Linked DNA regions of Homo sapiens. The protein of the gene in region 3 purifies or fractionates together with the protein of the main gene of each other region. This does not show direct contact. Each region holds a gene or a part of one and is shown on either strand. Other genes may lie near its edges.

What was found.
Region 1: the proteins of REPIN1 (region 3) and POTEB2 purify together in Homo sapiens (affinity purification with mass spectrometry, with the first as the bait; 2 studies listed by BioGRID). This does not show direct contact.
Region 2: the proteins of REPIN1 (region 3) and NME8 purify together in Homo sapiens (affinity purification with mass spectrometry; 2 studies listed by BioGRID and IntAct, with this or other methods). This does not show direct contact.
Region 4: the proteins of REPIN1 (region 3) and KCTD2 purify together in Homo sapiens (affinity purification with mass spectrometry; 2 studies listed by BioGRID and IntAct, with this or other methods). This does not show direct contact.

What each region holds. Positions count from the first base shown.
Region 1 is NC_000015.10:20,856,314-20,863,337, reverse strand, and holds part of POTEB2 (POTE ankyrin domain family member B2), read left to right. Parts: intron 1-1,848; coding exon 1,849-1,963; intron 1,964-2,122; coding exon 2,123-2,296; intron 2,297-5,120; coding exon 5,121-5,227; intron 5,228-6,564; coding exon 6,565-6,702; intron 6,703-7,024.
Region 2 is NC_000007.14:37,844,129-37,851,604, forward strand, and holds the start of NME8 (thioredoxin domain-containing protein 3), read left to right. Parts: upstream 1-4,468; 5' UTR 4,469-4,600; intron 4,601-4,695; 5' UTR 4,696-4,928; intron 4,929-6,131; 5' UTR 6,132-6,138; coding exon 6,139-6,171; intron 6,172-6,249; coding exon 6,250-6,307; intron 6,308-6,500; coding exon 6,501-6,607; intron 6,608-7,476. UniProt on the Homo sapiens protein: Probably required during the final stages of sperm tail maturation in the testis and/or epididymis, where extensive disulfide bonding of fibrous sheath (FS) proteins occurs.
Region 3 is NC_000007.14:150,364,562-150,371,841, reverse strand, and holds the start of REPIN1 (DNA-binding protein REPIN1), read right to left. Parts: upstream 3,021-7,280; 5' UTR 2,940-3,020; coding exon of another isoform or gene 2,901-2,939; exon of another isoform or gene 2,809-2,900; intron 2,753-2,808; exon of another isoform or gene 2,172-2,752; 5' UTR 2,131-2,171; coding exon 1,974-2,130; exon of another isoform or gene 615-1,973; coding exon 1-614. UniProt on the Homo sapiens protein: Sequence-specific double-stranded DNA-binding protein. Binds ATT-rich and T-rich DNA sequences and facilitates DNA bending.
Region 4 is NC_000017.11:75,057,215-75,064,238, forward strand, and holds part of KCTD2 (BTB/POZ domain-containing protein KCTD2), read left to right. Parts: intron 1-2,295; coding exon 2,296-2,391; intron 2,392-4,905; coding exon 4,906-5,031; intron 5,032-5,803; coding exon 5,804-5,833; 3' UTR 5,834-7,024.

The DNA.
Region 1 (7,024 bases), on a different chromosome or scaffold from region 3:
TTTAGTTATATATTTATGAAAACTAAAATAGCAAATATAAATGATTGTTACTATCGCAAATGTATTGCTCTACTCAACAGGAGTTTTCTTTTAAAAATATTGAACTTCCAACCTATGTTTATCCATTCTTTCAATCCGTTTAGTCATCAAACATAAGCCAGACACCTATTATATGGCAAGCATATTCTGCTATCTCTCAGGATCCTTCCACCTTTGAAAACTTCATGTTTACCTGCTGCGCCTGAGCAAGCTGAGAGAATCAAAATTGGGGCATTAGGACTTAATCTCAATTGAAGCTTTTCCTCCCTCCTTTCAAACAAAAGCACTTCTGAAGGTGGAAAATAGTAAAAGATAACCCTTAACTGCCCTTTTGAAAATGTATAAGACTTGGGTAAACACTGTTTTAGCTGTTTTAAGAACTTAAATGTGGTACATAAACAGCATGGAATACTATGTAGCCACAAAAGAAAGAACAAGAGCCTGTCCTTTGCAGGGACATGGATGGTGTTGAAGGCCATTATCCTTAGCAAACTAACATAGGAAGAGAAAACCAAATACTGCATGGTCTCACTTATAGGTGGGAGCTAAATGAGGAGAACACACAGACACCTAGAGGGAAGCAACACACACTGGGGCCTATCAGAGGGTGGAGGGTGGGAGGAAGGAAAGAAGCAGGAAATAGAACTAACGGGTACTAGGCTTAACACCTGAGTAATGAAATAATCTGTACAGCCAACCCCCTTGGAACACGTTTACCTATGTTAACCAACCTGCACATCCTGCACCTGTATCCCCGAATGTAAAAGTTGAAAAAAGCTCCACAAATAGTTTCATAAATCCATTTTAAAAAGAGAAAATTTATAACAGTCTTAAATCCTAATATGAATGATTGGAAATATCTGATGTACATACGTTGTATAAATCTAAGTATTGAAAAAAATGAGCCCATGCTATTCATTTGAATTTCAAGATTTCTTTGGCTTAAAGTTTTTGAAAACCAAAGTAAGAAATAGATTATTTTAGAAAATTGTTTTTGTTTTCACCTCAGCCCTCTTATTCCATAGTTCTTTTAAGAACTAAAATTTATCTAAATGCTAGTCATCTGACTGGAACTGCCCCAGACCTGTTATATTATAACATATTCTACTTAATGTAAGGCACCAGGGATTGTATGATGCCCCATTATTTTATGTCTCACTAAGAAAATTATTTAAATGCTGCCAATTATAATTATAGTAAATCATGAATTAATAAGTGGTATTTCAGTGTAAGAAATGTTAAAACATGGAGACAATGATCATCTTAGACTCAATAAAATACAGTACAACGCTACCTGTAATCTTTAAAATGTACCTGAAAGTGTAGGTATAATTGTATCGTTTCACTTAATTCAAATGTTGTCTTTAGTGGTATTAGTAAAAATTATAATATCTTACAATTTTTGAGCTGTTATTTGTGTTAGGAACTATTCTATATTTTGTGTAGAGTCTTATTTAAGCATTACAGTGGTTTCCTCTGAGAAACTGACTATTTTCATTCCCATTTTATTGATGAGGAAATTGAGACACAAAAAGGCTAAGCAACAGCTAGGAAGCGACAGAGCTTCAAGTAGGATTCCAGCCCAAGTTGAATGTCATCCAAGAGCTATGCTCTTTCTATTCAAATAGGCTGCTCTTTCATTAATACAGTGACTAATGAGAGGTAATAAGTAGTGTGCTTTCTTCAAAGGAAAATTGAGTTTGTTTTGAAGGCAGAGTAATAGGCTATTCAGTGTTTGCAACTACATGAATCATTAATGTGGCATTAGCTAGTGCACTACAATTTCCTGAAGTCTTCTCACTCTCATAGGACTGCTCTACATTTGGCCTCTGCCAATGGAAATTCAGAAGTAGTACAACTCCTGCTGGACAGACGATGTCAACTTAACGTCCTTGACAACAAAAAAAGGACAGCTCTGATAAAGGTATGCAGTAGTCAACTATATCAGCGTGAGATGGGTTTGATTTCAATAGATAGCATAAAAATGAGTTTTCTCATTTAAATATAACTAGTTGGTGAAAGCTGTGGAATGTTATTTTGAATTCCTAGGACTTATAATTTGTTTTTGGTCTAATACTGACAGGCCGTACAATGCCAGGAAGATGAATGTGTGTTAATGTTGCTGGAACATGGCGCTGATGGAAATATTCAAGATGAGTATGGAAATACCGCTCTACACTATGCTATCTACAATGAAGATAAATTAATGGCCAAAGCACTGCTCTTATATGGTGCTGATATTGAATCAAAAAACAAGGTATAGATCTACCAATTTTATCTTCAAAATACTGAAATGCATTCGTGTTAACATTGACCTGTGTAAGGGCCAGTTTTCCGTATTTGGAAGCTCAAGCATAACCTGAATGAAAATATTTTGAAATGACTTAATTATCTAAGACTTTATTTTAAATATTGTTACTTTTAAAGAAGCATTAGAGGGTACAGTTTTTTTCAGTGCACTTGTGGTTAATGCTTTTTAAAAAAAAAAAACACTGAATTTGTAAAAGGTAATACTTTTTTTTTTTTCAATTTTTCCCTGCCAAGTTTTTTTTTCCCTAACAAATGTAAAATGACAAAATTTGCCCTGGAAATAGGTTTTACATTAAAACTCCAAGAAAACTTAAACATGTTTCAGTGAATAGTAATCCTGCTACTTTGGCAAATTCCTAAAAAAACACTAATAGATATGAGGTGATGTATCTCTCAGTGGCAAGGCTTAAGATATTTCTGATTGCTCATGAGGCAGAATTGGAAAGGGAAAAATGCAGCAATCAGAAATACCAAGGCCAACTTGGAAATTAGGTAATGGGGGAAAAGACCATGAAGAGGTTTTTTTTTGTTTTTGTTTTTGTTTTTGTTTGTGTGTGTGTGTGTGTGTGTGTGTGTGTGTGTGTGTTGTTATTGTTGTTCATTCATTTGTTTCCTTTATATGGTGAGACAGGGTTCTTTTCCATTTTAGAGAATGACAGTTTTCAGTTTGGGAGAGGGAGTTAGTGGGTTGTAAACTGCCTAGAGATCAATTTTAGGAGGCCTCTGAGGAACCAGACTGGCAGTGAATATGTGGTAATGTAGTGGGAAACCCTTGAGTAGAAGGAATAACAAGTAATTAACCAAATTAGTATCCTATTCTGGTAGAAATGGCCAATTAGAGTCTCAACTCTGCTTTCAATTCTAGAATGTCTTGATGGGAAGGTGGGAGATAAGGGGCTTATAAGTAAAAAGATCAGGTTGGATTTTGAGTTTACTAGACCTTGTTCTACTCTTACCGGGGAAAATTTTGTGGTGTTTTCAGCAAATGAGTCTCTCTCCTACTCTTTCCTCTTTTTGGCCAAATCCTCAAATGATAAAGGGAATTGTTTATGTGATGAGAGATGAGACTGAAATAATTGTCTATTGCACTAGCTTCCAGCTAGAGTTGTGCATTCCAGTTACTTCAGGAAAATTTTTAAATAATCTTCAAGTCTAGGTTTTCCCCTGAAGATTTTGATAGAGTAAGTCTAATAAAGCCTGGATATGTATGTTTAAAAATGTTTCCTTGAAGCCAGGCATGGTGGTGCATGGCTGTAGTCCCAGCTGCTAGGGAGGCTGAGGTGGGAGGATTGCCTGAGCTTAGGAGTTCTAGTCTAGCCTGGTCAACATAATGAGACCCTGTCTCTAACAACAACAACAACAAATTTCTCAAAATCCGGATACACTCCTGCTTAACCACTGAATACATAAGTGTAATATGTAAATTCTTATATCTCAGAAACTTCAGATATTTCTAGAAGAGTTGGAGTTGGATATGTGCTAATTCCTTTAAATCTTTCCTTTCCAATAACATTAATCTAAATTTTTGTTTGTTTGTTTTTGAGATGGGGTCTCACTCTGTTCCCCAGGCTGGAGTGCAGTGGTGCGGTCACAGATCACCACAGCCTTGACGTCCCTAAGCTCTGGTGGTCCTCCAATCTGTTTTTGTATTTTTTTTTTTTTAGTAGAGATGAGGTTTTTGCCATGTTTCTCAGGCTGATCTTGAACTCCTGGGCTCAAGTGAATCACCCACCTCAGGCTCCCAAAATGCTAAGATTACAGGTGTGAGCCACCATTCCTGGCCTAGTCTGACTTATCTCTGTCGTTGGGACATTAAAATAAATATTATTGGCACTATCTATCAGCTTACAGAATAATACCTTTTCCTTTCTACCATCAGTTATTCACTGCCATTCAGAAGGTCTTTAGAAATTTGCAGTGAGTAGTCTTCCAATAAGTAGAGGATGGCTCTCTCAGGACTTTGTGTCCCTTTGTTCAATCATTCAAGTGCTTAGGTCAGTAAGTCGTTTTTAAGAGCAGAGTTTTCTCAGAATTGTAGCAAATTCTAAACCTTTTTTGTCAATTGAAGCTATATTGTGGGCTATCCAGTATGTCTCTTAAGTTTGTAGAGCTTTGGCTTAATCAGGATGGCAGGTTTAAACACTCAAAACCATGGAGTTATTAAGAATACAGATAGGAAATCTCTTAGTTTCAGTAATCCTATGAACTGATTATCTATCTAGTTAACAATCTGGAAAAATTAAATACAAATAGATTTTAAATGAATAAATGTTGGAAAAAATTCTTGAAATGGGCAGTGTGAGTATTAATAGCAATATTTATTGCATGTTGGAGCTTGAACTTTGGTAAAACATGTGAAACTAAAGAAATATTTTACATTCAAATTCTTGCTTTATACACAACAATTTTGTCTTAGGATTGGATAATAATAGAGATAAAAGATACAGCCCCTGCCCTCAAGAAGCTTTTTGTTTAAATGAAAAAAAAAATCATCCAAAAGTGCCATGCCAAATGCTCATTTAGAAACAAAGAGTCTTGGAAACAGTAAATGTTTAAAGTGAGTTTTTGAGATGATCAGATTTAATGTGGTGAGGCAGAGAAGGGATGTTTCCAAGGGAAGGAGTGGCATGTGGGAAAGTACAGAAGAGTGAGAAGGAAGCGACCAAATTTTATTTACTTTCTGTGAGTGTAAGTCCATAAGCTTCTAGTTCAGTTGAGAGATACATAATTTTTTGAATTACATATTGTTTTTGTTTTATATTGTTTTACAGTGTGGCCTCACACCACTTTTGCTTGGCGTACATGAACAAAAACAGGAAGTGGTGAAATTTTTAATCAAGAAAAAAGCTAATTTAAATGCACTTGATAGATATGGAAGGTATGGTTATTTCTTTTAATCTGTGTGTTGTTCTAGATTGATAGCAGTCACTCAAGTCATAAATAATAAATTAATAAGATCAAATTATACTTATTGGGACATAGTGATCAGTATCAACACAAATCAGTTAAGTAGAAAAGCAATTATTTGGACTGGGCAACATAAAGAACTGTTTTAGTAGGATTCATCTTCTCTTATTATATTGACTGATGTTATTTGTTGTATGATGTTTTTGGTTACATGATCTTATGTTAGCTAAAGGGATTTCATATTAATTTTATGAAGTTTGAACTTTAACTTTCAGTTTACTTTATGACTCAGTATTGAACTTTTTAACCCTTTCTAGTAGGTTTTAACCTCTGTATCTTATATGCTTTTCCACTAAATATGCTGTATTAAACATAAATAGGAGTTGAAAATCCTTTTGTCTTTTCAATGACTCTGCTTTAAGTTGCTTTCTTTGAAGAATATTAATGTTAGCTTATCCCTACATGACAATTAATTGCTATTCCCACATACTGTGGGTTCAACAGCTTTTTTCCTTTTTTATTTCCAGTGTATTTTGATGTTTTTATTTTTAGTTGGTATGGAGAGAGGGAGTGAAGATAGTTTTAAGTGGATACACTTTTCCTTTAATGAAGGCAAGCTGTAGGTGGGTGATAAAGAGAAAAGAGCTACGCTTTGGATTCACACAAGACTGGGTTTAATTCCTAACTTTCTTACTTGCTACGTGTGTGACATTGGGAACGTGATTTACCACCCAATATGTTGTCATATGTGAAAAGTAGGAGAATATATCCTTCAAAGTTGGCTGTGCATAAGCAAGAAAGGTACATGTGGCATTTAATTCAGTGCATAGCACATGCTTATTGGCATCATTAACTGAAACTCCTGTGACTACTATTCTTACCATTATTATTAATATTACTGCTTTCAGCATGCAGAGAGCTCTTATTTATCTTAGCCCCTAGCTAATTTTCTATTACAGCATATCAGTCTAGGGAAGCTGTGACAAAATCTTCACTTAAATCTTTGTCCACTTCAGATAAGTGGCCCTAGCATTGTTTCTTGCCCATCAAAGGACTTTAAATTAGTAGCTTCTGCTATGCAATACCCCACTGAGATAAGAGGTTTCCTTTTTGTCCCTTCCTTTTAACCTTGGTGGTATTTTACAAAGATGAACTCTTGAGCACCCAAGATGCTTATGTCTTTTAGCGCATGTAAATGTTTGATTCTGCATGGACAGGCAAGATGTCAAATTGGTAAAGTATATCAAATTAGCTTTTAAAATAACTTTATTACAGTTCCTAAAGGAGAAATTATCTCTGTAATTTTAGAACTGCCCTCATACTTGCTGTATGTTGTGGATCAGCAAGTATAGTCAATCTTCTACTTGAGCAAAATGTTGATGTATCTTCTCAAGATCTATCTGGACAGACAGCCAGAGAGTATGCTGTTTCTAGTCATCATCATGTGTAAGTGTTTACATGAAAAGGCTAGTTAATGCTAAATTGAGGTTTAAAATAATTATAACAATTGCATCTTACATATCAGGTGAGATGTCATAGTTTGGTTCAGGTAGTTTTAGAGTGGCAGTGAGTTAGTCCCCTGCATCAGCCAGAAATCAGACAAAAAGCAAGACAAGTTAGAAGTACCAATGGGTGCAGGATTCTTTACCTCAGGACTTTTAAGACCTTTATCCTTAGAGATCCCAATATTGTTCATTTCATCCAAGTATAACACCTATGCATGGCATAAAAAAGAGTATCACATCTTTGATTTTTCTGATTAGTTATT
Region 2 (7,476 bases), about 110 Mb from region 3:
AATTGGAATTCAGAATCCGTGATTTTGATCTAGTGGAGATAGGAGAAATTTTTTAAAAGTTATATAAAGTTCTCCTGGATAGATGACTAGCTTACTTCTATCTCTAGCTGAAGTGATAAAATTAAAGTAAGTCCCTATACCATTTATTTTCTTTATAGTCTACTTAATTACCTGGACCAGATTTCTTCTTTTTTTAAGCATTGTGTCTTTATTTTATTAAACTTTAAAAATATTTTTCAACTTTTATTTTAGAAATGAGGGGTACACGTGCAGATTTATTGCATGAGAATATTGCATGATGCTGAGGTTTTGGGTACAAATCCCATCACTCAGGTAATGAGCATAGTACTTGGTAAGTAGTTTTTCAACCCACGTCTCCCTCGTTGTCTCCCACTTATAGTAATCTGCAGGTCTATTGTTCCAATATTTATGTCCATGTGTGCTCAGTGTTTAGCTTCCACTTACAAGGAACAACATGCAGTATTTGGTTTTCTGTTCCCACATTAATTCATTTAAGACTATAACCTCTAATTGCATCCATGTTGCTGCAAAGGATATGATTTCATTCTTTTTAATGGCTGCGTAGTATTCCATGGTGTATATGTTTATATACACATTTTCTTTATCCAGTGTACCATTGATGAGCACCTGGATTGATTCCATGTCTTTGCTATTGTGAATAGCTCAGTGATGAACATATGAATGCATTGTCTTTTTGGTAGAGTAATTTACTTTCCTTTGGGTGTATATCCAATAAGATTGCTGGGTCAAATTGTAGCTCTCTCCATTTTAAATTCTTTGAGAAATCACCAGACAGATTTCTTGGATTCAAAAATTAAGAATTTTGTTTATCTTCATTAAAGAGTACATAAATGTGTCAAGAATATCTGCTATTTCCAAATGCACTAGCTTGCTATCTAATTTTAAAGTGTTTATGCAAAAATGGTGATGCTAGGTGCCAGAGAGGATTTCAAGAGGAAGAGAGCAAAGCGAAAACAATTCTACAATCCAGTTCTTATTTTCTGGGTCTTCATATATATTTAGAAGTCATGAGAACACACAAATGAAACAATTAGGCACTAATAAACTTGTGCCCCAAGGAAAGCAAATTGAGCACTATACATAGTGCTGTGTGAGGGTAAGAAAAGGCAGGTCAATATAAGAGAGTACCTTTAATGAATGTTGAAAGATAAAGTCAAATATATTTAAGGAGCAAAACAAACTATTAGGTCCCTTCAAAAGTAACATCTCTCATAGGCTTTTTGGCAGTTATAGCTTACACTCTCCTATAATAAAATATACATTGTCTTGTAACCAACATTTTCAGAGAATTTGCCCTTAAAGTCAATTCTGGGCAGACCCAAGTCAAAGGCTCTTCAGGTTTATGTTTTAAAGCCTCAACATTCAAAGTTTTTGCAATTAGTAGTAATGATGTAAAAAAACAAAAAAACAAAAAAAACTAATTACACCTTCCTTCCATGTATTGGCCACTGGTAAATGTTTGTTCTAATTTGAGAATACATTGAAACTTCTTGCATCAAAGTGTTATATGAAGAATTTGCCTGAAATATTTGCATGAGCATTTCACCATGTGAACTATTGTGTTGAATCAAAGAAGAATCAAAAGTCAGTTTACTAACAGTCTGACTCTGGTGAAATAGCAATTATAGGAAATACATAAAACTTCTTTGAAAATAGCAGATGGTTTTAGACCCTTGAGGAATCGCCACACTGTCTTCCACAATGGTTGAAATAATTACACTCCCACCAACCGTGTAAAAGCGTTCCTATTTCTCCACATCCTCTCCAGCATCTGTTGTTTCCTGACTATTTTTAATGATCGCCATTCTAACTAGTGTGAGATGGTATCTCATTGTGGTTTCGATTTGCATTTCTCTAATGACCAGTGATGAAAAACTTTTGTTCATGTGTTTGTTGGCCTCACAAATATCTTCTTTTGAGAAGTGTCTGTTCATATCCTTTGCCCACTTTTGGATGGGGCTGTTTGTTTTTTTCTTGTAAATTTGTTTAAGTTCCTTGTAGATTCTGGATATTAGCCCTTTGTCAGATAGATGGATTGCAAGAATTTTCCCCCATTCTCTAGGTTGCCTGTTTACTCTGATGATAGTTTCTTTGGCTGTGCAGAGGCTCTTTAATTAGATCCCATTTGTCAATTTTGGCTTTTGTTACCATTTGACCCAGCAATCCCAGTACTGGGTATATATCCAAAGGATTATAAATCATTCTATTATAAAGACACATGCACATGTATGTTTATTGGAGCACTATTCACAATAGCAAAGACTTGGAACCAACCCAAATGCCCATCAACGATAGATTGGATAAAGAAAATGTGGCACATATATACCATGGAATACTATGTAGCCATAAAAAACGACGAGTTCATGTTTTTTGCAGGGACATGGATGAAGCTGGAAACCATCATTCTCAGCAAACTAACACAAGAACAGAAAACCAAACACCGCATGTTCTCACTCATAAGTGGAAGTTAAACAATGAGAACACGTGGGCATAGGGAGGGAAACATCACACACTGGGGCCTGTCAGGGGGTGGGGGGCTAGGGGAGGGATAGCATTAGGGGAAATACCTAATGTAGATGACAGGTTGATGGGTGCAGCAAACCACCATGGTATGTGTATATCTATGTAACAAACCTGCACTTTCTGCACATGTATCACAGAACTTAAAGTATAATAAAAAAAAAAAAAGGAAAGAAAATTGCAGATGGTGAAGTGAAGGAGTACTACATGTCCTGTCTTGATAGGATATGATCCTGGTCAAAAATCCTTCTGTAGGTAGCCGTGCTCATCTATTAGGTCCACTCCAGGGATGAGGATCCCTACAAAAAGGTTCATTGTGTCCCTCTCTACTCTACAGTTGCTTTCTGTATCTCAGCCTGTGGATTAATCAGAAACTATTGTGAAAAATTATTTCCAGATGCTGCAAGTGGGAGGGAGGAAGGAAAGTAAAGAGAAAAAGAACGAAAGAGAAAGAAAGAAAAAGAAGAGGAAGAAGAAGAAGAGGAAGAAGAAGAGGAAGAAGAAGAAGAAGAAGAAGAAGAAGAAGAAGAAGGAGACGGAGGAGACGGAGGAGACGGAGGAGACGGAGGAGGAGGAGGAGAAGGAGGGGAAGAGGAAGGAGAAGAGGAAGGAGAAGAGGAAGGAGAAGGAGAAGAAGAAGAAGACGAAGGAGACGAAGGACACGGAGGAGACGGAGGAGACAGAGGAGACAGAGGAGGAGGAGGAGAAGGAGGGGAAGAGGAAGGAGAAGAGGAAGGAGAAGAGGAAGGAGAAGTGGAAGGAGAAGAGGAAGGAGAAGGAGGAGGAGGAGAAGAAGAGGAAGAGGAAGAGGAAGAAGAAGAAAGAAGAAGAAGAAAGAAGAAGAAGAAGGAGAAAGAAGAAGGAGAAGGAGAAGGAGATGGAGGAGACGGAGGAGGAGGAGAAGGAGGGGAAGAGGAAGGAGAAGAGGAAGGAGAAGGAGAAGGAGAAGAAGAAGAAGAAGAAGGAGATGAAGGAGATGGAGGAGACGGAGGAGACGGAGGAGGAGGAGGAGAAGGAGGGGAAGGGGAAGGAGAAGAGGAAGGAGAAGTGGAAGGAGAAGAGGAAGGAGAAGAGGAAGGAGAAGGAGAAGGAGGAGGAGAAGAAGAGGAAGAGGAAGAAGAAGAAGAAAGAAGGAGAAGAAGAAGAAGAGGAAGAAGAAGAAGAAAGAAGAGGAAGAAGAAGAAAGAAGAGGAAGAGGAAGAGGAAGAAGAGGAAGAGGAAGAAGAAGAGGAAGAAGAAGAAGAGGAAGAGGAGGAAGAAGAGGAGGAGGAGGAGGAGGAAGAGGAGGAAGAGGAGGAGGAGGAGGAAGAGGGAGAGGAAGAAGAGGAAGAGGAAGAGGAAGAAGAAGAGAAAGAAGAAGAAGAAAAAGAAGAAGGAAGAAGAAGAAAGAAGAAGAAGAAAAGAAGAAGAAAAGAAGAAGAAGAAGAAAAGAAGAAGAAAAGAAGAAGGAAGACGAAGAAGAAGAGGAAGAGGAAGAGAGAAGAAAGAAGAAGAAGAAGAAGAAGAAGAGAAGAAGAAGAAGAAGAAGAAGAAGAAGAAGAAGAAGAAGAAGAAGGAAGAAGAAGAAGAAGAAGAAGAAGAAGAAGAAGAAGAACAAGAAGAAGAAGAAGAAGAAGAAGAAGAAGAAGAAGAAGAAGAAGAAGAAGAAGAAGAAGAAGAAGAACAAGAAGAACAAGAAGAACCAAACCAGGGTAGATGAAGACAAAGTTAAAAAGAAAGAAAAGGCTGGTGCTGGCAGAGAGCCTTCTGCTCCGATTTGAGGTGTATGCATTTTATGCTGTAAAGCGTGGCCAGTCACAGGAGGATTCAAAGGCGAGGAGAGATATGATCAAATCTGCACTTGGGAAAGCGCACCTTGGTGCGCATCTGGGGATAGAGGAACGTAGGGATGGGAGGATGGGGGATGGGAGTTTGGGGATGAGGCAGCTGAAGAACAGAGTCTTGTGATGGTGGAACCAGGACTTCGTTGTTCCTTCATTGTGTGGGCAGAAGAGGTGGAGGATTTTAGGCGCCACCTGGTCTTGTCCCCACTGCCCAGGTATAGCTGCTGTCTGGAGCAGGGGCCTCGAGACGCCGCTCAAGTCTCACGGGCAGATGGGTTGGACAAAACATTGCCCCCCTTCTTCTTCCCAGACAGGCAGGGAATCCCTCTTCTTCCTTTTGCTGAATCAGCTGGAGAAGAAAGCCCAGCAGGAGGCCTGCTAGCCTCAGCCTCGGGCCCTACCAGGGTCCTAGGTACTGGAATGGAACTTCGCCGAGGTCACCGCTCAAACGGCCACAACGAGGGAGCCGATTTAGATCCTCTGGGCCTGTTCCTTCCTTTTCTTTAAACGTCCCAGTCTAGCTTAGAGGAGGACCTGTTTTGTGTAAGGCTTGCCGGAGCAACCAGCACCTTTCCTGGAATACAGTCTTGTTTGTGGCTTTTCCTTTGTTGTACGCTAGCGTGCACTATCGCCCGCACGCTGACTGACCCCTGTTCTACACCGCCCCTGATACCACTGAATAGGGAGTTTGAGAAGTTTATGTCGTGCCCCAGAAAACACTAGTGGCCTTGTTCTCAAGATTAAATATCCTTAGAGCAGCCAGATCTGAAGAGGGACCCCAGAAAGATCCACGGGCATGTTCATTTGTTTGCAATTGATAATATAGGAAACACTTTCTAATATTTCAGGAAAACAAAACCTTTAAAAAAACCAGACGACGTGTAACTCCTAACATTCTTACCTTGCTTCAGGACTGTTGGGAGGATAAGATAGTGTGGCAGCTATAAGCATTTAGCATAGAGCCTAGCATACAATAGTCCTTCCATGACATTAGCTTCTCTCTCCCCAGCAAAGATGACACTGCATAATCCAATGTACAGTGGGGAAATTTTTCACTAGTACATTAAGATGTTATTTGCAGTTAGAAAGAATGAATACTGTAATCCCAGCACTCTGGGAGGCTGAGGTGGGAGGATCACGGGTCAGGAGGTTGAGACCATCCTGGTTAACACGGTGAAATTCTGTATCTACTAAAAATACAAAAAAAATTAGCCCGCCGTGGTGGCGGGTGCCTGTAGTCACAGGTACTCTGGAGGCTGAGGCAGGAGAATCGCTTGAACCCAGGAGACGGAGGTTGCAGTGAGCCCAGATTGTGCCACTGCACTCCAGTCTGGCAACAGAGTGAGACTATGTCTCAAAAAAAAAAAAAAAAAAAAAGAACAATGAATAAGACCTAGTATTTGCTAGCACAAACAGGTGACTGCAGTCAAAAAATCTAAATTGTACATTTTAAAATAACTAAAAGAGTATAATTGGATTGTTTGTAACACAAAGGATAAATGCTTGAGGTGATGGATACCCCATTTACCCTGATGTGATTATTATGCATGGCATGCCTGTATCAAAATATCTCAGATTTAAATACACAAATATTTAAGTACATAAATACAGAGATACATAAATATATACACCTACTATGTACCCACAAAAATTAAAAATTGTTTTAAAAGATGTTATTTGCATGCATAAAGAAAATGTTATTTAAATTTCCTACTTAAAAATTTTTCTTTCTTTTTCCTATGATAGTAGATAAATGGCAAGCAAAAAACGAGAAGTCCAGTTACAGGTGGGTCTGACATATCAACAATTCTTTATCTGGTGCACTAGTGCTTGAATACCTTTTACAGTGCCTTCCACTTTGCAGACAGTCATCAATAATCAAAGCCTGTGGGATGAGATGTTGCAGAACAAAGGCTTAACAGGTATAAGGACTCCCCGGCTGTCTGGCCACCTGGGGTTTGACCCGGAGCTCCTCCTGGCACCCTGTCCCTCTAGAGTCCCCACTTTGACCAAGAAATCCTGCAGTGCCTTTGCCCTGGCCATGGCTCCAGATTGGGATAACTGCTATCCTAGATTGGTAGACTTTGTTATTTCATAAATATCATCATCTTCTAGTGATTGATGTTTACCAAGCCTGGTGTGGACCTTGCAGAGCAATGCAACCTTTATTCAGAAAATTGAAAAATGAACTGAACGAAGACGAAATTCTGCATTTTGCTGTCGTAAGAATTTTGTTTTCATTAAACCACTGTTTTCACATTATATTAAGTTTTTAAGTATCCTCTAATACTTTAAGTATTGTCTTAATTTAAACAACCTGTCAGTTCTTCAAAATAGATAGTCTTTACTTGGCAGTTTTACTATATATTTAATTCTACTAGATCTGAGAATGAATATGATTTTTATCCCATTCTTATAACGTCGAGGCTATTTACCATGACTGTGAAAGTCAGAAAAGTGTAATAATGGACACATCTATTGTTCTGTTTCCTTTCACCTGACCACATGTTCAGTGTGTGTCCTTTAGAATAAGGGCTACAAAAGCTGTTTACTGGGTATCATTGAGTAGTGCCCTGGCATTAACCCAGTTACCATATTTTCCAGTGGCAATGATTTTTCCTCATTTATTTGCTACCTACTTGCAATAAGGGATTAAAATATTATAGCCAAACACATTTTACTGAATTGTACTGTTTTTTCAATCTATTCACATAAAATGATCAACTAATTAGAATTTCGTTGTCCAACATGGTAGCTACTAGGCATAAGTGACTATGGAGCTCTTGCAATGTAGCTGGTCCAACTGAGGAGCTCAATTTTTAATTTTAATGAATTTAAATCTGGATTTTCAAACTGATACTCCATTGAGTTATTGTAAAACTTTTAAAATCTGGGATAACTTGAGTATGTGAATCTACTACTTAACTGTAAATGTTATTAAAGCTAATTAAGGATTAATTATTTCTGATTAACATTTAGCATATGAATTAAGACATACTCAAGTGTAAGAGACACATTAGATTTTAAAAATTTAATATGGAAAAAGAAAGTGAAATATGCCATCAATAATTTTATACATTGATTACATGTT
Region 3 (7,280 bases):
TACGTGCACCCGCTTGTGGGCAACTAGCTGGTCCCACTGGGCAAAGCTCCGGCCACAGTTGCCGCATATGAAGGGCCGGGCCTCCGGGGCGGGAGGGTGGCACCGCCGCAGATGAGCTCGAAGCTGCTTTCGTCGCCAGAAGCGTCTCTCGCATTTGGGACAAGCGATGGGCCGCTTTGCAGCTGAATGGGCCCGCAGATGCAGAACCAGGGCCACCCAGCCTCGGAAGCTCTGCCCACAGAGGTGGCAGGCAAAGCCCAGGTCTGGGGTGGCAGCAGCATGGACCTGGCGGTGCAGTGCTAAGAAGGGGGCATGGCGAAAGCGACGGCCACACTCAGGGCAGGGCAAGGGCAGCCGGGCCTGGCACCGGCGGGTGTGAAGCCACAGAGCCACCCAGCCAGGGAAGTGCCTTCGACAGTGGGCACAGCGATGGGCCCTGCCTGGGGCTTGGGCACCAGACTGGGCCACTGACGTGCCTTGTTGCCTCAGCCCGCGGGACTCCTTCCCCAGGGTCTGGGGTGACTCCTGGGAGGGCCCAGAAAGGAGTCGGGGCTGGGCCAGGCCCATGGCCAGGGGGCCCCTGCAACGACGTTCCAGCATCGGTTCTTCCTCTGCTGAGGGTGGAAAAGCACAGTCACTCCAGAGACCAACTCACTCTGCCCCTGTTTCTCCCCTCCCAACCTCAGCCCCGGACAGGAGCTGCCATCTATGAACCCCTAGAGCCCCGGACATGGAGCTAGACTACTCTCCTGTTTCCTTGTGTGGTATGTATTATTTCAATCTTGGGTTTTTAGATAACATTTCAAGGATGTTTGTCTTATGTCTTTGTTGCCCTGGAAACTTCCAGAAGGGAGGGACTCTGATACTAGAATCCCCCTCATGGCAGCTACCCCAGTGTCAGACAGGGAGTAAATGCTCCAGTGCTGAATGCACAAACATTCCTGCCACAGGACTCACCAGAAAATGTGGCCACTGCTCCCTACAGTGCCTTATGCTGCCCTCTCCCTGTGTCTGCTGTTTCCTATGCCACATCCGAGCTGCACAGCAACTCTGAGAAGCTGGACAAACAGACACTGAGCTCCCTGTTTAACAGATGAAGCAACTGTGAGACATCAAAGATGACGAGACCTGCCCAAGGTGACACAGTAAGCCAACAGCAGAATCAAGACTAGGGAACAGGTCTTTAAACTCCCAGGCCAGTGTTCTTTCCTCTAAAGCGCCTGGGTTTGCAAAGATCTCAGAGAAAAAGGTGTCTATAGCTTTTCATTCCTAGCCCCACAGGGGAGGCACTTTCAGCATCACTAACTGCAGTCTCCGTAGGAGGCTGGAGGACAAGTGAGAACAGCCCTTCTCGGGGAACAGGAGCAGAGCCCTGGGTGCTACTCCCGGCAGTCTAACGCCAGACCACCGCCTGCCCAGACTGTGCCCCCATTCTGCCCGCCTGCCCTCTTCCACCCACACAAATTAGGACATTGCAGGAAGGAAGGCTCTCCCTGAATCCAAGGAACACCCACAGCCTGCTGCCCTCGGGGCCTGATCACCGGCTCTGCCTCCCTCGGGGTGCTGGAGATTACTGGGGCAATAGAAGGGGAGGGAAGATGAGACTGCAATCTCAGTCCCCTGCCCGGTCCTGCCCCAACCTCGCCAGGGGCTGCCCCATGTTCAGCTCTTCCACAGCTCAGGGGAGCCCAGATTCCTGCACAGGAGCCTCCTCCGCGGAAGGAGGAAGGAAGCAGTTAGGCTCCTAAGGGCCCTTCTGTGCCTGCTCACAAGCTCCAGACACATCCTTCTAAATTCCCTAGAGCGCACTCTCTCTTCTCAGGGAACACAAAGGTCACTCATTCCCAGTGTCAGACTGTGCACAGGGAAGACCCCAGGATATGAGAAAGGGCCATTTCCTTCCGCCGGGATGGGGACGCCCGTGCACCCCTGTTGTGGCGTGGTTTGGGAGCACAGCAAAGGCCAGACTCTACCCTGGAGACTGCAGAGCTGGGGATGAGGCTTTTTCCAGCTCCTCTTGGGGATGTTCCTGGGGATACTTCCGCGGCTGCAGCGCCTGCTTCGGCCCACACTCCGGTAGCCCCCAGGTGTTAGAGAAAACTGCAGTAATAAAGACACCCCTATCCCCATGGCAGAGCTCAGACCTCTGACTGCAGAGAGGCCAGCCTTACCTGTGGGGAGGGAAGAGAAAACAGAAGTGAGGCTCTGAGCTCCTCTAGGGCAGTCAGCTTTGTGTCCTCACCAGCCACAACCCCTCCCCCCACAAAGCCACACGCACCAGCCATAAGCCCCACATCCTGCCTGGCAGAGTGACCTTAATGGACATTGGATTAATAAATGAATGTGCCCCTTCAACAAGGAAGCACACTGCTGTCTTTCGGGGTCACTTTCTTCCCTGGTAAGGTCACGGAACGAATTCTCCATTCTGTGGCCAGAGTCTGGGCTTTCCCTGATGGCCAAAGGCCGGCCTATGGCAGGAACTCTGGAATCCCTGCTGGCTCCCCTTCCCCCAGCCTCCTCCCGACAGGAATTCCAGGCCTATTTCCCATGGGGCTGCGCAGGGCCAGCTGGTGTGACCACGACTCCGTCAGAATCCCCTTCCGCATCGCGGCTGGCCGCGGGTGGCAGAAGCCCCACACCGCCCTTTTGTACTGATGCGTGTCCTCCGTCCACGCTCCCGGGCACACGGGTCCCGTTCTTGCGAGTGAGCCATTTCGGGTCCCACGCACGGCGCAGCTCGCGGAGCCTGTGCGCAGGTGCGCTCCCCCACCCCCGCAGATCCAGCAGCGTCCCCCCCCGCGCACTCACACACGGTCGCGCACACTCACGGTCACGCGCCCCGCAGGTGGAGCGGCCCCCCGCGGGCCCGCGGTGGCCCCGCGCCCCTGCCCCGGCCGTACCTCTGCGGCGGGCTGTGCAGGGACGCGGCGCCCGTCCATGGAGCCCGAAGGCCGGCCTCCGCGGCCCACTCTCGCTCCCCGCCCCGCCGCGGCGACAGCGGCAGGTTCGAGTTCACAACTGCCAGGCCCGTCCCCAACCTCCCCCCGCCGGGTTCCCAGCGCCACGTGACTACAGGAGCTGCCGAGGGTCAGTCGCCGGCTCCCGCGGCCGCGGCCTGGGGGCGGGGAGGGACTGCCGGGGCCGGGGCGCGGGCGCCCCCGCCAAGAGCGGGCCGGGTCACTCAAGCCACTGCCGCGCCAGGGCGGCAGGCCTCGGAGGGTCGGACTCCGTTGCCATGGCGACCACCAGCCCGGGTTTCTCTGGGACTGGCCGGAGCTCAAGTTTCCCGACCCTTTGTCCCTGCGGAGCACGCGCGTCCCCGGGCGACCGCGTGGCTGGCCTATGGTCACCGGGGTGTTCGGCCTTAGCTGCCTTATGAGAGGCTGGGAGCCCGTCGGGAGACTTCAAAGAGGGCTCCGGCAAGCCCCCGGAGCGTCGTTGCCCGGGCCTTTCTCAGGCCGCGCACCCCGGCCGCAGTGCGGACGCTTGCGGCCGCGGCGGTCCCGGGACGGCGGTGGCGCACCTGGAAGGCCCTAGCTTCCGATTTGTTCCAAAGTGGAGCACAAAAAGGCCCGATCCTGCGAACTTTGAAAAGGCCTCTCTTCACTCTTTTCTAGAAATTAAGAAAGAGCAGAAGTTGCTGGGCTTCCTCTGGCTGCGGGCCAAGCGTGGGGCGACGGCCGAGGTGGCCGTTGGCGCACGTGGGGCATTTCGCTTGGAAAGGCTCAGCAGCCTGTGTGGCGTCTGCGGTGGCAGGTGCGAGCCTGTGCCCATGACTCACCCACTAGCAGGTGGCCCTGGCTTTCCAAACTAAACACTTCCTGGGGTTTCCAGGGTAGTACAATTTCATGTACTTTCATGCTTTTCAACACAGGCAATTTTTGAATTGTATAATTAGTCGTAAAAATACTTTTTAAATCTATTGCATAAATAGGAAATAGGGGAACATAAAACTCAGTTTTACCTCGTAGAGTCAATTACATTTAATATTTTGGTATGTTGCCTCCGGTGTTTTCTCTACGTATATCCATGGCATGTCTGGCATAATTGGAATAATGCCTTGCGAAGATGTATTCTGCCTTCTTCACTTAACACGATCTTGTGAATTTTCTTCCATTTTATTAGATATTCTTTTAAACATGATTATTTATGGCTGTATAAAAGGAATATATTTTTTAAATGTTTTCTAAATTATCTTCCAGGAAAACGTATTAGTTTTCCCTGAGAAATGCCCATTTTCCATATACTTGACAACACAGACTTTTTTAAAAAAAAAATTTAGTTTGAAATGGTTATTTCTCATCTTTTGTACTTGCATTTCTTAGAGTACTAGTTAGCTGGATTGTTTTTTCACATGGTTATTTTTTGCCAGTTTTATTTTCTCTTGTGAATTTGTTTATGTCCATTTGCCCACTTTTCTATTTGCCCATTTTAAAAGTTGGGGAGTTGGTTTATTGTTTGGGGGGCACTCATAAAGTACAGGTATTAAAGACTTGTCATGTTTGTTGCAGACGTGTTTCCTCGTACTTGTTAACTTTTTTTTTTTTTTTTTTTGAGACAGGGTTTCACTCTGTCACCAGAGCTGGAGTGCAGTAGCACTATCATGGCTCACTGAAGCCAGGACTTCCTGAGCTCAAGCAATCCTCCCACCTCGGCCTCTGAGTAGCTGGGACTACAGGATCACATCACCACATCCAGCTAATTATTTTATTTTAATGTTTTTCTTCTGTAGAGATGGGGTCTCACTGTGTTGCCCAGGCTGGTCTCAAACGATCCTCCCGCCCCAGCCTCCCAAAGTGTTGGGATTACAGATGTGAACCACTGCATCCGGCCTACCTTTTCAGTTGTTGATGTGAGAAAGTTTTGCTTTAGTCTATGTGCTGCTGAAGCGAGCATAAGAAAGTTTTGTTTTATTTTTATTTTATTATTTATTTATTTATTTATTTATTTATTTATTTATTTATTTTGAGATGGAGTCTGGCTTGTCTCCCAGGCTGGAGTGTAGAGGGAGGTGTGATCTCGGTTCACTGCAAGCTCCGTCTCATAGGTTCTCGCCATTCTCCTGCCTCAGCCTCCCGAGCAGCTGGGACTACAAGTGCCCGCCACCACGCCCAGCTATTTTTTTGTATTTTTAGTAGAGACGGGGTTTCACTGTGTTAGCCAGGATGGTCTCGATCCCCTGACCTCGTGATCTGCCCGCCTTGGCCTCCCAAAGTGCTGGGATTACAGGCATGAGCCACCGTGCCCGGCGAGAAAGTTTTGTTTTAATGTGCCAAAACTTAGCAGTCTTCCTTTATGGTTTCTGCCTTTAGAGTTATGTTTAGAGAGGCTACCCGCAACCTAAAACTACATTGAATGTCTGCAGTTTTATCACAGAAAATAAGTTTTGGTAGCTGGTAGTTTAAGTACTTCCCCTACACAAAGATTCTGGGTTTTTTTATTCTTCATAACTTCTTGGCTAGAATCACTTCATTTATTCTTCCAAACTGACATGGAGCCGGCACCCCTCTTACAGGCCTGCAGGAAGTGGGGAGGGGGCAAGCATGGAAATAAAGGAAAATCTTGAATTCCTTCAAGGGAAATTCCAGGCACCCAGCTAGCAACCTAATAAACAAGAAGGTAACTGTAGCTTAAAACAAGGAAGTTACAGTCACAAAATGTTTGGTTCCCTATAGAAACTAAAGATAACATCTTAATATATGTCCCTGAGTTGCTCTTCAGAAACCTGGGCCCCCCTCCCAAGTGGATGCCCTGGCCTGCAGACCTCAGACAAGAGGGAACTGAGGACTAAGCTCTGCTGTTCTTTGTTCTAAATTTCTTCCTGAGGATCCTGATGGAAGTTGGACCAGACCTGAACATTCCTTTCTGCTAACCCCAAGGTTTTAGGCAAAGCTTTGCTTCCTTAACTTATCACAAATCAGAGTCTTTGAATTCATGTATGACCTTTAAGGCTCCTCCTTCAAAATACCCTGCCCTTTGAGGCTAAACCAGTGCATAACCTCCATGTATCAATTCACGATTTTGCCCATAACTTCTCCTTTCCTGAAATTTACCCCTGCTTTTAAAAACACTTGCTTGTGGCCGGGCCCAGTGGCTCATGCTTGTAATCCCAGCACTTTGGGAGGCCGAGGTGGGCGGATCACAAAGTCAGGAGTTCAAGACCAGCCTGGCCAACACAGTGAAACCTCGTCTCTACTAAAAATACAAAAATTAGCTGGACGTGGTGGCAGGAGCCTGTAATCCCAGCTACTCGGGAGGCTGAGGCAGGAGAATCACTTGAACCCAGGAGGCGGAGGTTGCAGTGAGCCAAGATCATGCCACTGTACTCAAGTCTGGGCGGCAGAGCTAGACTCCGACTGGGGGAAAAAAAAAACCTTGCTTGTAAACCATCGAAGAGGTTGTATCTTAAGTATGACCCACTTCTCCTCGCTTGGTGCCCTGCAAATAAATGTGCTCCTTTCTCCGGATGCACAACCTCAGTGTTGGTGTTTCCTCTTACTGCGCCGGGCAAGTAGACCCCAGTTCAGTTTTGTAACAAAATGAACTTTAGAATTTCTTGTCAATGTTTTAAAAACGTGATTGTCTTTAAGATTCATTCTCTCCACTCCATTCATTCAGGTCTTATTTTACCTGTCCCAGTCAAGTTGACTAATCTGTACATTAACTACTTAACTTTTATACTTTTTTTTTTTTTTTGAGACAGTGTCTAGCTCTGTCACCCAGGTTGGAGTGCAATGGTGCAATATCAGCTCAGTGCAACCTCCGCCTCCCAGGTTCAAGTGATTCTCCTGCCTCAGCCTCCCTAGTAGCTGGGATTACAGGCACGCACCACTACACCTGGCTAATTTTTGTATTTTTAGTAGAGATGGGGTTTTGCCATGTTAGCCAGGCTAGTCTTGAACTCCTGAACTCCTGACCTCAGGTGATCGGCCCACCTTGGCCTCCCAAAGTGCTGGGATTACAGGTGTGAGCTACCGCACCCAGCCCAACTTTTATACTTTATAAAATAAAATTCACAAATATGAAAAAAGTCTTTGTCATATCATATAGTTTGGGGGTTCTGAAAATATGGTTATAGCATATTGTGGAATATAGGCCAAGTTTAGTAGTTACGGAAGAATGAATTTTTCTACCAACAGTACAATAAGAAGATGCTCCAGTTTTTACCTAAATACTTAGTAATTTATTAGTTAACATTTTGGGAGGCTTTACTTTGTGTCAGGCATGGTGATAAACTCCTCACATACATATCTCATTTAATCCACTCAACAACCCTATGC
Region 4 (7,024 bases), on a different chromosome or scaffold from region 3:
AAGTGCTGGGATTACAGGCGTGAGCAACCATACCCAGACTCCTATTTCTTAGAATAGTATTTTTTGTAGGTGATTGATCCTGGTGCATTTGAGAGCACAAGTGGTTTACTTTGGAAGGGAGAAAAAAGAGGCAGTATAATGGCATCTTAAATACCTGGGACTTTGACAGCTGTGGCCAACATCACAGATCTTTTGTGATACTCTGAATTTTGTACTTATACAATTGGTTTCCAAAATAAGTGGTTACAACCAATTAAAATCTTCAGAGGATTTGTACTATATGTAATATGGAAGGAAATCTTTGAAATCCTTAGTACTTTGGTTAATGATAGCTATACCTCTTTTTTTTTTTTTTTTTTCCTCGAGGCAGAGTCTTACTCTGTCGCCCAGGCTGGAGTGCAATGGCGCGATCTCAGCTCGCTGCAACTTCTGCCTCCGGGGTTCAAGCAGTTCTCCCGCCTCAGCCTCCCGAGTAGCTGGGATTACAGGCACGTGCCACCTCACCTGGCTAATTTTTTGTGTTTTTAGTAGAGATGGGGTTTCACCATGTTGGCCAGGCTGGTCTTGAACTCCCAACCTCAGATGATCCGCCCACCTCGGTCTCCCAAAGTGCTGGGATTATAGGCGTGAGTCACTGCACCCGGCGATCGTTATACCTCTTTTGGAAGAAAACATAGAAGAAAAAATACAGCATTGTCGGCCGGACACAGTGGCTCATGCCTGTAATCCCAGCACTTTGGGAGGCCTAGGTGGGTGGATCGCCTCAGGTCAAGACCAGCCTGGCCAACATGGCGAAATCCCGTCTCCACTAAAAATCCAAAAAAATTGGCTGGGCACAGTGGCTCATGCCTGTAATCCCAGCACTTTGGGGGCCCAAGGCGGGCGGATCACCTGAGGTCAGGAGTTTGAGACCAGCCTGGCCAACATGGTGAGACTTCGTCTCTACTAAAAATACAAAACTTAGCCAAGCGTGGTGGTGGGCGGCTGTAATCCCAGCTATTCAAGAGGCTGCTGAAGCAGGAGAATCGCTTGAACTCGGGAGGCGGAGATTGCAGTGAGCTGAGATGGTGCCATTGCACTCCAGCCTGGGCGACAGAGCGAGACTCTCTCAAAAAAAAAAAAGGAAAAAAAAATAAAAAATTAGCTGGGCGTAGTGGCACATGCCTGTAATCCCAGCTACTCGGGAGGCTGAGGCAGGAGAATCGCTTGAACCAGGGAGGTGGAGGTTGCAGTGAGCCAAGATCACCCCACTGCACTCCAGACTGGGCAACAGAGCGAGACTCCATCTCAAAAATAATAATAAGGCTGGGTGCGGTGGCTCATGCCTGTAATCCCAGCACTTTGGGAGACCAGGGCAGGTGGATCATGAGGTCAGGAGTTCAAGACCAAGCCTGGCCAACATGGTGAATCCCCTTCTCTACTAAAAATACAAAAATTAGCCAGGCTTAGCGGCAGGCGCCTGTAATCCCAGCTATTCGGGAGGCTGAGGCGGGAGAATCGCTTGAACCGGGGAGGCGGAGTTGCAGTGAGCTGAGATCGCGCCACTGTACTCCAGCCTGGGCGACAGAGTGAGACTGTGTCTTAAAAAATAATAATAAATAGGCCGGGCGCGGTGGCTCATGCCTGTAATCCCAGCACTTTGGGAGGCCGAGGCGGGTGGATCACGAGGTCAGGAGATCGAGACCATCCTGGCTAACACAGTGAAACCCCGTCTCTACTAAAAAATACAAAAAATTAGCCGGGCGTGGTGGCGGGTGCCTGTAGTCCCAGCTACTTGGGAGGCTGAGGCAGGAGAATGGCGTGAACCTGGGAGGCAGAGCCTGCAGTGAGCCAAGATTGCACCATTGCACTCCAGCCTGGGCGACAGAGCGAGACTCCGTCTCAAAAATAAATAAATAAAATTATAATAATAATAAATAATAATAATTTTACCTTATTTTTGACTTGGGGAAATGGATTAAATCTAAGTTTGTTGGCATAGTTGCTCAAGCATTCATCCCTCTGAAGTTCAGAATTATTTTACCTTTTTTATTCTTTCACTCTTTGGATATGTTTTTATTGAAAAGCCACAGTATGCTGGCTTGTGGTCACTTAAAAAGAAAAACATTTTTTAAAGAGAAGGGAAAAAAAGAAACGCCACAGTACTATTTGTAAAAGGGGATAGTGGGTGGCTGCCAAGAAAAGATTTCCAAGCAAACTCCTTTTCAGTGTTTATTCATTTGAAGAGCCTCCTTGGGGCAGCTGCAAACTGTGGTGTCCTTGGTGCTGTTCTCAGTCTGCGCCTGGTCATTGCAGGGCCCCGTGAAGCACGTGTACAGAGTCCTGCAGTGTCAGGAAGAAGAGCTCACGCAGATGGTGTCCACGATGTCCGACGGCTGGAAATTCGAACAGGTACATCTCTTAACAGAGCAGCAATCCCAGGCCCCGTTCAAGGGGTCTGCAGCTCTTCAAACAATCAGTGTGGATGGCCAATTAATAACCACGGGAGACGGCTACGGCCAGGTGGGATCCTATTCCAAAACATGGGCAAAGAGCCATTTGGTGGGCACTGCTGGCCTAGTGGTGCGTGAGGAGTTGGGGAAACAGAGGAGCATCATGTCTTAGCTTCACACGCAGACTTTCCAGGGGAGCCAACGAGCAGTTTAGGCTTGAAGTGCCTCAAAGCCTTTGGTTTTTGTTCCCTCACAGGGATCGTAGAATGAGTCCCTAAAGGAGACTGGGATTCGACAACAATCCTTCCATTTCTTTTCCCAGGGTCAGAACTTTTTGGTTCTGAATGTCTTATGTAATCCACCGTGAAGAGCTTGGTGAACAGCTGTGCTAGGAAGGATCAGGCGCCATGGGAAGTGTGGTGCGGCCGTTTCCCCTACTTCTCTCCGCCTCGTGCTTACGACTGAGCTATCAAAACAAAGCTATGACAGTTGGAGCTTCACTGTTCTCCTCCATTAGATGGCAGACTTGTTAAATTCTGTTGCCTTCAAAACATAGGAAGGCCAGAGCGAATAGAGTAAATACAATTTTTTTTTTTTTTGGAAAGTCAAATCCCTTTCTTCATTCCATCCCTTTTAGACATGGCATTTAAAACAGACATTGCTACATCACTAACTTCCCACAAGCTGTGGTGTCCACTGGAAAAATGTAGTCCTTGATATTTCTATTTCACATTCAAGTGATCCTCTGCCACTTATTAACTGGTTCACTTCAATTTCAAAAAGCCAAAAAAGTCCTCTAACATAAGCCTTCCAAGGTGATACTTTCAGAAACCAGGGTTGGAACTAACCAGACAACAGCGCGACAGCCAAGACCAGCTGCTCTTGATGCCCTTTTCACTTCTGTGTTGTCCTGGTTGAAGTTGGCAAAGAGCAGCTGGCCGGCGCCGGCCTCCCCGCTCTGGCTCGCCAGGTTCATGGCTGGGCGCGTGGCGAGTGGGCCCGGCCAGGGAGGGCGCGCGTGCGAGGGCGGGTCAGGCTGCACTCAGGGTCTCGGTCGCCGCCACTCGCCACCCTGGGATCAACCGCCTGAGTAAATATGATTTTATACGGATTATGCCTACTTATGTGTAGAGTTTTAACAGGTCAACAGCTGTCTCACCAGATGCTTACCTTCTAAAAGAAAACTCACACTTTGCATTAATGCTGTTATCTCACAGATCAAGTGCAAAGCTGTCTCTGCCTTCAGAGCCAGCGGTGATTATTTCTCACACTTAGCTTCCACCACGGAATCCACTCTGCCTGTGTCTGTCATCCTGGTTCTTACTGGGCATGGGTTGTAAAACGTCGCCAAGAGTTTAATGCCCTCCACTCCAGAAGTATTTTTCCTAATATGAGCTCTTAAGCAAAGGATTTTTTTAATGTATTCTTTGTGAAACTAAAATGAATAATTTCTTGTTAATTTCTCATCTTATTACTGTCCCGTGGGAAGACGGAGGGTGTTCCTATTGCCTCCCTTCTGGATGAGGAAGTTTGTTTCAGACAGGCGGAGGCGCCCCCAGCCCCATCCTACCACAGTCAGCCATGCCGCCCATGTGAGGCCTCGCCTGCTCACTGGGATGCCCTCACCCTCTGCCTGAGCTGCTCCCCTGCGTGTGTATTTCCTCTTTAGAATTAAATTCTGAATTCTATTATCCAAAAAGGTTAAAAGTACCAGCATGCTGGGCACGGTGGTTCACACCTGTAATCTCGGCACTTTGGGAGGCCACGGTGGGAGGATTGCTTGAGTCCTGGAGTTCGGAGACCAGCCTGGGCAACATAGCGAGACCCCCCTTCTCTATCAAAAATAAAAGAATTAGCCAGGCATGGTGGCTGTAGTCCCTGTAGTCCCAGCTACTCAGGAGGCTGACGTGGGAGGATCACTTGAGACCAGGAGGTGGAGGCTACAGTGAGCTGTGATTGCACCACTGCACTCCAGCTTGGGTGACAGAGCTAGACCCTGTCTGGAAATAAAAAGTACCAGCAGCATATGACTTCCAGTAGCTGATCAGTGATTGGCTCGGTGCTTTCCAGAGCCTCCTGTCCCCAGTCTAGGGCTTCTGCTGATAGAGGAGCCAGCTGTGTGTGTGACTGAGGCAAATGTCCATTTTGTTGGCAGATGCGTTCTGTCTTCCCTTGCTGTGCTCGACGGGGCGTGGGCATGTTAATCCTGCCGCTGACGGGGGGGGACTTCAGAGCTTGGGTGAGGGGACAGTGGAGCTCATACTCTTCCTCCTGGGGAGGCCTCACCAATGATGCCCTGATGAAGAACAGGCCCATTTCTCCCCGGGGGCTTTGGTAGTCACAGAGAACTCATATAAAGAGTTAAACCTTTGATAACTTAAAAGTTCAGTCGGAAGAGGGGTGATTTGTGTAGCACTTTCGAAAGTATGTTAAGATTGCCACATGAATGTTCACTGTATTCTTGGTTCATCAGCTCATCAGCATCGGATCTTCCTATAACTACGGCAATGAGGATCAGGCAGAATTCCTCTGTGTTGTCTCCAGAGAACTAAATAATTCTACCAATGGCATCGTCATAGAGCCGAGCGAAAAGGCGAAGGTAAGGAGCCCCTTCCCTGGGCAGTTGCCTCTGGCTTGCTTGTTCGCACCCCCTCCGTGGGCTTTTCCTGAACTCTTGCTCCTCACTTCTTCCCTGGCCTTCTAGAGCCAGCGTTGCATTTTCCCCTCGTTTTGTTATTTTTGACTGTTGTAATTTAATTGGGATTTACGGAGCACTGACAGGTGTTTTTAGTTAGAAAATATGAACCTAAAAAGGGTAGACTTTCTCCATCCTCTGCCAAATCAATGAAAAAGAAAAGCTGGTTGCCACTAATTACTACAGGGTAGGATTTCTGAACTCAGACTTGGAAGGTATTTTGATTTATTCTTTAAAACTGTGCTTTTTTCACTGCCTCAGGAGAAAAGGGTGTTTTCTTACCTTGGTGACCTTTACCTCCCTTAAGTTCCTGGAAAACTGTTTCTTTTCCCTCCACTGTGCACCCCCCTCACCCCCAACACACACACACACACACACACACACACACACACACACACACACAGCTTCTAAATCGTGGATACCAGGTAAGCTGGAACCACTTCCTTTCAGTTGGCAAAGCTTTGGTCCAACAGCATATAAGCTTTAGACCCAGCTGTGCCCAGCAAGAGAGTGTTTCGCACCAGAAGCACTGCGGGTGAGGCTGCGGCTGCACCCCTGCTTGCTTCCTGGGATGACAGGACCATCATGCCACTCATCGGGTCCAGTGGAAAGCATCCCCCGACATCTCTGTCTTTCCCTCAGCAGCCTCAGCCTCTCCCCCATCTCCAACTTTCAGATTCTTCAGGAGAGAGGATCGCGGATGTAAACTAAGACCCCGAAAACTCCAGACCTTCAGGAGAGCAGTCAGCAGAGCCCCTCTGTGAAGTGAAACCTCACTCCTGTCCAGTGACCGAGCCACTGCAAAGCACAGCTGATCCTGGCCCCCTGTGAAGAAGTGTTCTGGTCAAAACTAAAGGAACTCCCTCCCCACCTGCAGGACTCCGAAGACAGTGCGACTTCTGGCTGCAGAATACCTTTTCAGAAACCTGCTTTCATTTGCTTAGCCAGTATTAGAACAGATCTTTACAACAGCAGCTGGGCTGGGTTCCCAGTCGGAGCCTTTCGGGGATCTGGGGGATGAGGGCGGAAGGCCTAGCTCCTTGGAAATGGCCTGTACTTTAAGGACGCTGGAGCCAAGAGGATTGTTCCCGTGCCGTGCCATGGTTTCACCCTATGTGTGCCACAATGGACGTTAGCAGCTGCTTCGGAACACCGTCCCTCCTATGCACCCTCCAAGACGTGCAGCAGATGCAAAGGGTTCTAGCTGCAGTTTGTCGAATTGAGGTTTTAGGTAAAGCATAGAGTTGCCAGAGTACCCCGCATTCCCATGAATAGAGCCTCCAAGGAAAGGGAGGATGGGGTGTCCTTTGTTGTGGTTGGAGGTTGGTGATCATTGCTCTGGATTTGGGGCTCCCGGCTGCCACCACATGCAGCTTTGCCTCACCTTTCTCCAGCAGCCGGGACCCTCTGGAGAGCTTGTTTTCCCTCCAAGAAGAGGTTTGAGACAGGCGGCATCCTGCACTGAGTCAGACAAGTGGGAGCTGTAGGAACTGCACCTGCAGCCTCTTCTTACTCCCCATTGACCCTGTCTTCCTTCCCTGGCTTTTTCAACTGGACCAAAGATGAAGGCACTTATGGACCCTTTGATGGCTTGGAGTGGGGAAGGCTGTTTCTTTGAAAGTTGCCAAATGTGTTATGTTGTGTCTCAGAGAGAGTTATTTCTGTGACTCTCTTGGAAATGCCTTGACTGAATGTGCAATATTTGTGTCTCTTGGTTTCTAACCTTGGCGGACCTGCTCCCCTCTGTACTGTCCCCAGTGGTATGTATGTATGTGCTAGGCAGTCTGGGGACCCCCTGTGTCTCTGACCACCCCCCTGACCCCCGCCATTACTTTCTTTTCTGGAGTGCCATGCTGGCGAGGATCCGGATGCGGCAGCACCCTCTTTCGGGCTGCAT